Linked DNA regions of Homo sapiens: region 1 is linked to region 2. Evidence: fine-mapped expression QTL. A gene starts in region 2. The other region holds a variant in brackets. All regions are shown on one strand. Distances are from middle to middle.

Region 1 (5,387 bases), 26 kb after region 2:
TCACTGCAACCTCCACCTCCCAGGTTCAAGTGATTCTCCTGCCTCAGCCTCCTGAGTAGCTGGGATTATAGGTGTCCACCAACACACCTGGCTAATTTTTTATATTTTTAGTAGAGGCAGAGTTTCACCATGTTGGCTAAGCTGGTCTAGAATTCCTGACCTCAAGTGATCCGCCTGCCTTGGCCTCCCAAAGTACTGGGATTTATAAGCGTGAGCCACCACGCCTAGCCAGCCCATTATTAATGAAGAGAGAGTAGCGTCGATGAGGATGGCAGTGGGGGAGATAAAATGGGAAGTGTTCAGAGTCTAGAGGGTAGGGGATCTCCAAATCTTTGAATATCTTCCAGATATACCATGTTTATTAGCAAAGTCTAGTCTTTATCAATCAGATACTTAACCTGGGTGATAGAAAATGTTAATATTGGGAATTTCGCCCATGCTGCAATTCAGCAATGCATACGGCCATTTTTAGACTTGCTTTTCAATGGACTCATTGTGTCAGTTCTAAGCATAAAAGGCATTACTTAGTAGGGTCACACCATGTTCCCAAAGGTCTGCTTTCAGCTGCACAACCCAGATACAGAACTTATTCTTCAGCCACTGGAAATTGTTCACAGCTGTTTTGAGCCCCCACCTTATCTCCTTTAAACAGCTCTGTGGCTACACAAACCTCCAAAGCCTCACCCATGGAGGTAGTCTGAGTCATAGGCAACCACAAGCAGCAGCTTAATGTACCATTACATTGCTCTTTATAATGGAATGATTGCCTTTGATCCCAGGTTATAAAGACTGTCTTGCTGCCCTGATTACTATTCCAAACACCCTGCACATCTTCTGAGTGTCTGGTTCCATGAAACCCCACTCCTGGCACTAACTTTGTTATAGTAAGTCTTTTTGGTCCCAAGGAACAGAGATTCATTCAAATGAATTAGGAATGAGGAAATTTATTGTAATTTATTACAAGTAGGCAGTTGAACTTGGAATGACATTGAAAGCCGACAGGGATTTTTGAACTCTCTTGGAATCCTTGCTCCTCTCTTTATCTGTCCTCGTTTTTCCTCTTATCAGTTGATTCCATTTGTTTATTCTCTCTATATTTTTCTCAATCTCATAGTTTCTGCTGTTCATGGATTCTGCTCCTTCATAATTTCAATTTAATTTGAATTGGCACATGATGACCTCTTTTTTTTTTTTTTTTTTGGATGGAGTCTCTCTCTGTCACCCAGGCTGGAGTGCAGTGGCACCATCTCGGCTCATTGCCACCTCCACCTCCCAGGTTCAAGTGATTCTCCTGCCTCAGTCTCCCGAGTAGCTGGGACTACAGTGTGTGCCACCACGCCTGGCTAATTTTTTGTATTTTAAGTAGAGACAGGGTTTCACCATGTTAAACAGGATGGTCTCAATCTCCTGACCTCATGATCCACCCACCTCAGACTCCCAAAGTGTGGGGATTACAGGCATGAGCCACCGCGCCTGGCCTGAACTCTTTTAATGCCATAAATGTTCTGCTTCCACTGGTGACTAGCAAATTTTCTCTATCATTTTAGTGATACAAGCAGAGGTTTGAAAAGTGCTTGTCTGGCTGGGCACCATGGCTCATGCCTGTAATTTCAGCACTTTGGGAGGCCGAGGCTGGCAGATCACTTGAGGTTAGGAGTTCGAGACCAGCCTGGCCAATGTAGTGAAACCCCATCTCTATTAAAAATACAAAAAATAGCTGGATGTCATGGTGCATGCCTGTAATCCCAGCTACTTGGGAGGCTGAGGCAGGAGAATCGCTTGAACCCAGGAGGCAGAAGTTGCAGTGAGTTGAGATAGCACTACTGCACTCCATCCTGGGCAACAAAGTGAGACTTCATCTCAAAAAAAAGAGAAAAAGAAAAGAAAAGTGCTTGTCTTCTTATGTTGCTCTTACAGCCCTTTGAGCACCCTGTAGATAAGTCCAAGTTAGCCTTCTGGAGAGGCCCACCCAAAGACACCTTTGCCTATTGGCCTCCTGTCATACGAATGAGGAGTTTAAGATCATCCAGCTCAGCAGAGCCCCATGTGCCTGACTTCAGTCACATGAGTGAGCCCAATATTAGTCCAGGCAGGATCAGCAGAAAAACCATACAGTTGAGCCTAGGTTAGGTTACCAACTCACAGAATCATGAGCTACGACATCATTGCTGTTTTAAGCTACAAAGATGTGAAGCTTTTTGTTATGCTGCAAAAGCTAACTGCAACACCAAGCAAGTCAATGGGCCAAGTCTATTGGATCAATGGATCATGTTAGTGGATATGATGTTTTCACAGAGTGAGGAAGTGTGTATTTGGAAAAACTAATATAACCTATCACAATACCTGTTTTTCATACTAAATATGATGATGCTCATCTTGGGTCTTGTTTATTTAGTCCCCTCATCACTCCGCACAATGGATGACTTGTAGCATATACTTTCAGATGTTGGTGAATAAATGTCACAATGAAAAAGGAACATTCTCTACCCTCAAGCTGCTTATTGTTTAGATATGGAGATAAGACACAAATTCAGTAACTCTCACAGAAAAACAAGAATAATAGTGCCATGGAAAGTGTCAAGCTCTACCAAGGCAGATGACAAATATTTCCACTTGGAGGCAGGTGAAGGAATAGAAGAAAATCAGGGGAGGCTTCCTGTAAGTCACAGCATTTAAACTTGGCTTGAAGGATGGACAGAATTTTAAAAGGAGCTGGTGAACAAGACAGTTTTTGTTCTTTGCGTGAAAAACAAATGAAGATGCTAGAGCTACTCTCCTGTTTGGGATAAGGCAAAAATCCTGACTTGATGGAGGCATGCTGTGATGTACAGGCACTTAAGGCTAGAAAGGAAGAGTGCTGACAGGCTGAGCTGTGTATTAACACAATGACTCTCAAATAATCCAGGAGCAGCTAAATGATTCAGCATATTATTGCGCTATTGTGGGATGGGATATTTGTAACCATAAAAAGTTTGCTTTTGAAAAATGTTTAATAACATGAGTTGTAGTTAAATGACTAAAAATTGTACCAATCTAGTTTTATTAAAATTTATATATTAATTTTAATATTTATTATATATATGTATATTTATATAGAAATTTAATAATTTTTGAACTCTAAACTGAGAACATTCGTAACTAAAATCAAGCCATTAGGCTGGGCACAGTGGCTCACGCCTATAATCCCAGCATTTTGGGAGGCCGAGGTGGGTGGATCACAA[T/G]GTCAGGAGATCGAGACCATCCTGGCTAACACAGTGAAACTCCGTCTCTACTAAAAATACAAAAAATTAGCCGGACGTGGTGGCACGTGCCTGTAGTCCCAGCTACTTGGGAGACTGAGGCAGAAGAATCACTTGAACCTGGGAGGCAGAGGTTGCAGCGAGCCAAGATTGTGCCACTGCACTCCAGCCTGAGCGACAGAGTGAGAATCCATCTCAAAAAAAAAAAAACAAAAAAACAAAAAAACAAGCCACTAATCAGAGAGGCAATAAATTGCTGGTAGTATAATATTGTCAGCAACTGTCCTAAGTGCTCTGCACACATTAGCTCATTTCTTCATAATGAGGTCATTTATTCCTTCCCCTTATGAAGTTAGATGCCATTATTATCCGCCTATTGCCAGTACGGTGAAACAGCATGGTTTGTAGGATATAATCCCAAAGTAGCTTCCTTTGTGCCACTGCCTTTTAAAATGATCCCTTTGGACTCATTCTCCTCTTGCCCATAGATTAAAATTAGCATGTCTCATGTGTTTTCTGCCCATTTTCCTGTCAATAGCTAATATGCCTAGTTCAGGGTAGTAATCAATACTTTATGCATCATTCATGGTTGCCATTATTCCCCTTTCCCAGCCTGGGAGAGTGACTTACCTGGAAGTAGGTGGGAGGAGCTGGGCTGAGGAGGAAAGGCGGGAAAGGGGTGGGAACATTGTTACTTGGCTCCTGGAGAGCGTAGAGAGCTGGTGTTGGCACTCTCTGGATTTGCAGGTGTTTAAGGCTCATCATTTTTGTCAAGGGCCATGTTTATGGGTTCTCTTACTTCCCTAGGGATCTGCCATATTCAGTTACCTTATTGCTGATGAAAGCGTCTCTCTTTGGATGGTTGGTTATGAACTCCTTCTCCAGCCAAAAAGCATCTGGTGGTATCTCCATCTCCTTTCAAAGGTGATCTTTTTGCTTCTTCAGATGACTCCCAGGCAGCTTCTGGGATGACTCCAGGAAGATGCTCCTTCATGCATAACACACAGGAAACACTTGTTTATCCTTTGTCCTCAGAGACTCTGGGAGTGAAGTTTGCTCAGGGCAGCCACTTCATTTTGCCTTTTGCCATCAGAACAGTTAGCTTGTTTCTTTCCATTTAAGGTGTCAGGCTTGGGTCAGACCAGTCCACTGTGTCTTCATGACTGCAGGAGACCTCATCATGCCCTCAACTTCTCTATAGGCACTATTCCTTTGACTTGAGATGAACAGAACATCTAAACCTTTCTATTCTGTGAGAGTACAGGACTCAGAGCAGAATCAATTCTTCCAAAAATTATCTTCTTTCTTCTCCGGTAGCCTCCAGTCCTTTTATTCCATTTCTGTGGGTGAACAATTAAGTCACAAAGCAAGCACGAGTCACTTCTTTCATAAAACCTATATCATGGACTTGCAACTTATTTGGAAGGAGCATCAATTGTCTTGGGCTGAGACCCGCTTGAACATCTTGTTAGATTCCATTTGAGCAGCAGAGATGGATTAAATAGTTAGCTAAAGGTAAATGCTGCAAGTGGAATTCCAGTCTGGACAGTCAAGATTCAAAATCCAGACTCTTTATCTTTGATTGAAAGTCTTAGAAATAAATTTTATTTCCCTCTCTATGTTTGTCTGTATATTATATATTTTCCTATATATATGTATGTATGCATCTGTATATGTACAATAATAGTTGTACAATAAGTAAAGTTATATTTTAAAGATTACGCAAGCAAAAGCATTCAGCGCAGTTTAGTGTGATGGGAAATTGCAGACAGGAATAGTGGATAAGAGGTTGTTTGAATAGTCAATAATTAACACTACAACAATATCAATCATAATAAAACTCACTCCCCCTCCCCTGCCTTTTCACAGAGCATGCCCAACAATGTCCTTACAGCAGATACAAACACAAGCATCATGAAGGTTTCCCCTATAATTTCCTCTGTGATACATTGATAGGGTCATGCCAAAACACAACCTGGTAGAAGCTGTTCTGAGAGAGCAAAAACAATTCAGTCCTAGGACACCAGCTCTCTGCCACCTGAGATTAATGCAGCGAGACATTTTACAGGACTCAGGCAATGGCTGGATGGCATAACTTTCAGACCGTCCTTTGTAAATATTGTTTCTTTTAATCAAGCCTTTGATAAA
Region 2 (5,387 bases):
AGGCGTGAGCCACCATGCCCAGCCATGTCTTGAGCTTTTCAAGGGGGCGAAGGAGAGATCAGTAGAAAGGAAGGAAGGAAGGTGTCTGGGAAGGGGATTCTGGTGGGTACTTAGGGTGTAAAATTTGAAGAGACACTGGCTCTCTAGGCCTGGCCCTGGAATCTGGGGTCCAGTGGTAATGAAAAGCCTGTGAGACTGCCTAGGTTCAAGGCATGGCTCTATGGCCACTGGTGGAGTGAATATGGGCAAATTATTTTCAGGGCCTCAGTGACTCATCTGTAAAATGGGCCTAATGATAGCAGCATCTCATGGGGCTTGGGGGGAAATCAAATATTCGGTGCCTAGAATAGTATCTGGTAAATAGTGAATACTCAAATATTGTAGCTTAAATCATTTTATTACCATTATCCTTAAAGGCAATTTGAGGGACTAAAACAATTTGAGACACTAACATTTCTCAACTAACAAGAGGCAACAGAAATAAGAGGAGGGCCGTACCCCCGTAGGCTTGTAGTCAGCTGAGCTTCCTGGGAAACGGGAAAGACAAGCTGGCACCGGGGCAGGAACGGAAGCTCCTGTCTCTTCAGTACTTTTGTTCTACCTCACTCCGGCATTGGAAACCTGGTCACAAATGCCTTGTCATTTGCTGGGCTCTGCCTTCCTCCTCATCCATCAAGGGTTCTCCTTGGCTCTTCAATCCAGTGTTCTTAGACCTTTAAAACGCCTTTATTCTCCAGCCAGTGCTGTTGGCCTTTGAGATGTCATTACTGTGCACGTAGCGGCTCCGGTGCCTACACAGTGGGAAAAACCATCAAGAGTACACAGATAAACCCAGGCTGCCAACTTCACACACTCAGCAAGTCCCCTCTGTGGACAATTAGGGCCAAAAGACAAATATTGACACATTAGACTATTTCCTCATTTATTTTCTGTTGATTGTCTGGGCAATCTGATGGGGCAAAATTCCACTTTTCTGATAACTGATTCTTGGCTAATGGAAACAAATAAAGTAAAGGCTTCTGTCCACAATGGGTCGAGGCCCATTTTGCGGAACTGCTAATCGGATTAAATGGACTCCCAGCTCTATTTGCAGCCACCAAACTCCCTTGAACACTTTCCACATCTGAAGGGTACCCATCATGGTGGCTCTCTTGCTGTTGAAATCAAATGGAGAGGAGCACGCAAAGTCTTGAAACTGCAGCGAAGCCTTCTCCAAGCGAACAAAATACAGGGATGAGGAGAAATGCGTGCCGAGTCCTCCCAATTAAGTGGACAGACAGAGAAAGTGGTTCTGGCCAGCGAGCTGCAGAAATCTATTTTCCTCCTTATAAACACATTTTTCCCCTATTTTTCTTCTTCTTCTTTTTTTTTAAACTGATAATGAGAGTAGTGAACGTGTAAACTTCCACTACTGTGATCCTCATCTCCCGAAAAACCAGAAGTCCTGCAAAAGTCGTCCTCATCGAGCATTCTGGGGGGCAATGCATCTTTCTGATTTTGCCAATTTATCTAGAAAATATTACAATTTAATCTATGTTAATAAAAGACCAACAGGGTAACAATGCCTGGGGTTTTATGTGTCTGGCTGGCGTCTATTAGCATTTAAATCTGCATCCATTACGTTAGTCCCTTAAAATAAACACAAACATTTATGCGAGCGACAATTCGAGTTAGCCTTAGTCAGTCTTAAATAATGTCACTCAACTCGGTATTTGGACCGAAGCCTGTGAATCATGAGGTATATTTTTGCCTACAGTCTGATAATTTTCAAAGCTATTGGCAACCTGGGAATTTTCCTTCCTTATCACCAGGGCTCAGCTAACTTCACTAAGACTAATCAGGCTGGGAATCATTCATTCAAGGATTGCATGATCATGTTTTTCTTTAGCTGTGACAGCTGCCTCAGTCACATTAGCAATGCAGATTAGCCAGCCTAATAGGTTAATGCAGAACACACGAAAATTAGGTTTAATCCCCAGTGAAATAATCTAACATTTTCACATTTCTTGATGTTGGGATAGAGACATTGCTGGTGACTCAATTAGGTGTAATGTAGATCAAAGCAAATTTACCTTCTGGCTGAACCTTCCCAATAGTTTAGACAGAAGAATATAGCAAGGGCCCTCTACTAATTGGTGAATAGCTGTGGGGAAAATTGCATTAGGAACATGTAGGATGTGAGCAGAACTCTTCGGCCGAGGACAGACAATTGACGTATTTTGCAAATATCCACATCTCTCACTTTGCCATGCCTCCCAATGATGTTGCAGCTCAGCGCAGATGCAAACACCTTATGTACCAACCCATTCATCCTTTGGGCATAACTGCAATAAATGGGAACACACACACATACACACACACGCTCTCTCTCTCTCTCTCTCTCTCAATCCATACCTTTTTCACGTCCTGTCCAGGAGTATCACAATTGTGTTCTGAATGGGCCTGCATTGTGAGAGGAGCAGAAAGAGAACGAGAGGGTGTCTAATGTTTTCATTCTGGCGAATAGCATCTCAAACACCCATCTCTTTCAATCATAAAGGGAAGGACACAAAAAATTACATGCCCTCAGTTGCCAAATTATTTTTTGCCTTGACATCTTAATTCTTAATCCTTGTATGTGGTCAAATCAGTCTACTATAGGCAACCAATCAAGCAATTATTTCTAAATTATATTTGCCCAACTCACATTGATTGGCCATTCTTTTCTTACTGGGTTAGCTCATTAATTCTGAGCAGCTCGCTTATTATGCCTTCCACATCATTTTCCTTCCGAGCCTATCTGCTCCAGCCAGCCTGCTGATGTTTCAAGATGCCATACAGGGGAGGGGGAAAAAAGCAACCAGCGATCTACGCATTGTCTCCTCTAGCAATTACAATTCACATTGCTGATTAACTTTGATGTGAAAACTAATGAGATAAGACAAGTTATCAAGGCGGGCCTGATCATCATTCCATTTATACAGCATTTGCCACCGGTGAATGACAAAAAACTAATGAAGACATATCTGACAGCAGGCTGAGCGGAGGCAGGTTTCGGTTCCCCATCAGCCAGAGCTCGGCTCCCTTCTCATGGTCTATCTGAGACACGTTGGAATTAGCTTAATAATGAAAACACTTCATCTAAACGGACACATGTTTACATTAAAATAACTACATGATAAATAGATGGCGGAGATTTTATGCCTTCTTGAGTCTAAACAACAAAGTAAAAATGTGTTCTAGTATTCACTAAATCATTCGAAGGAAAATTCAATTTAAGCTATTATACTTATCACTAAGCGTCCCCCCCTGCTTATGGGTAACAAATGTTGGTTTTCAGAGGGTGGGGGAAGAGATGCGATCTGGGAAGAACAGGAGTGATTTACTTTGTGAAGATGGTAATGGCAGATAAACAGAAGTACAATATTGGTAAAGCTAATGAACATTGTTCACACAGTAATAACTTCGTGGTGGGGAAGATCCACTGGAATGGCATTCCCAGCTGTACATTTTTGTAAGTTCTCTTCATTTTCTGAACTCCAGCACTGAAGATCTCCGCTTTCAATTCACGTGTGAAGATGGTTCCATTCCTTTCTACACAAACATCTATGACTTTAGAAAAAACCCAAAGCATTTCCCTGGATATGTTTGTATATATTTTTTTCTAACGAATTAACGAGGCAAGGCAGATATTACACAGGAAATGTACATTTTCTTTGGATACAGTTTTTGGTGCTGAACATTAAATATTTTTAAAAAGTACATGCTTTATTTAGTTGGTTAAATAAAGTGGTTACATAGGAGCTGCAATAAAATTCATAAGTGTTCATATGGTTAAAAGGATTCGAGTTCATTTTTGCCTCTGCAACATCCTTGTTACATTAGCCTTATAAAAATGAAAGGAAGTCAAAGGCTGATTGTTTTTATAAATAACACTGCTTTCCCAATGAGTTATTTTGTTACTTTGATAAATCATTTCCTAAAACATAAAAAAAGAAAAAAAAAGTTCGTTTTCCTAGAAGCAGCTTTCTTCCTCATAACATATGCAAGTGTATTCTGTTTTTCATACATAAACATCATAGCATATTATTCCACTCAAATATCATGGGAAAAGCCAGAATAAAAAAGCAAAAATAAGTTCTGGCATTCCTTTTTTTAAAAATAGGTAGTAGTTTTTATTTTCTTTAGGCGAATATGATTAGAAATATTTTTAAGGCAACCGTCCACAGGTATTTCCAGTTATGTACTTTGAACTTTAAGAAACAGAAATACAAGAATAATATCAGCGACCATCATCAAAATCTCCCCCACCCTGTTGTTCTCCCAGCAGTCACAAACAAAAACAGCCACAAAACAAAACAAAAAATTAACACAAACCTATGTTTCTCGAGTGGCCATACTAAAGAAATCTACCGTTTCTGATGAAAGTTAACCGAAAGTACTGGTTTAAGGATGAAGAAACAAATTAGTACTCCAGTGAGGGATTAAGTTTAAAAGCTCTTCTCAGAACCGAAGATAAATCCTGTATATTAGAAGACACTATAAAAGTACTTGCGTAAGAGCTAAAGGCACAAGTGGAAAAAGTTGACCCCCAAGATGGTTTGATGATGGTGTGCTGTTTATAAAATTCACCTGCAATGAAAGGCGCCTGCAAGGACAGCACCCACTAAACACAGAAGCAATTGTACTAGAAAACAGGTTTCCAGTTTTGACTCAAGTGACTAAATTAAACCCATCTGAACAAGGGCTGACCGATTTCTTCTCTCCAACCCGTCTCTTCCCCCTCCTCTCTACACATTGGCTTCTCTTTTAGCCCATTTCTCTCTTGAATGCTCTCCTAGTTATGTTTACCACTCAATTCTAATGTTAATTAGAGACATACACATCAGTATTAGTAACCCACGTTTTCATCAGCACAGCCCACCCTGCCAAATGAAAAACCCGAGCGTGTGTCTGCGTGTAAGCCAACAATGCAGACATGGCCGTATTCTTGAAAGCACATATCTAACATTCCTTCCTCCCTGGTGTTAATTTTCCCTTTCTATGTACTCTTATTATGCTATCTCTAACATGGGTGGCGGGTTCCTTTTTAGCCTATTTCTTTAATCTATTTTAATAAATAATTACAGGCAGGCGGCAGGATTTATTCATTCCAGAGGGCTACCTCCTTCACATTTTTTTCCAGAGGCGCAGCTCAAGGAGACATGGTGATAATCACAGAGGCCTGGAATCCCTTCCACACAATGTCATTATGAGCTCCCATTTAAAATGAAAAATGTATATTACACTCAAAAGCGATACAAGGTTAGCGCCTCTTTCCCAGGAATGCTTCACAACAAGGGACACTCTGGTTCCATATTCAGGAAAGGAGCTGGAGGAAGAAGGAATGAAAATAAAAATCACTACAA

Alleles and levels. Alleles are on the strand shown, and positions count from the first base shown. SD is a standard deviation of normalised expression in the study named.
With allele T in place of G in region 1, the expression in caudate of the gene that starts at base 2,495 in region 2 is higher (moderate effect, 0.47 SD a copy in GTEx).

Evidence for each region. PIP is the estimated chance that this variant, and not a neighbour inherited with it, causes the effect. A credible set is the group of variants that fine-mapping cannot tell apart.
Region 1: its variant is the best candidate, but not a certain one, in a credible set for the expression of LINC03083 in caudate (GTEx, PIP 0.51).

What each region holds. Positions count from the first base shown.
Region 1 is chr20:20,941,779-20,947,165 of GRCh38, reverse strand. No RefSeq gene overlaps it. Among named protein-coding and RNA genes, the nearest start is that of LINC03083, 26 kb to the left of the region's middle. The variant T/G (reference allele first, on the strand shown) is at 3,222.
Region 2 is chr20:20,967,556-20,972,942 of GRCh38, reverse strand. LINC03083 (long intergenic non-protein coding RNA 3083) reads right to left here and starts at 2,495. Exons shown (of 2, transcript NR_186504.1): 1 at 2,395-2,495; 2 at 381-791.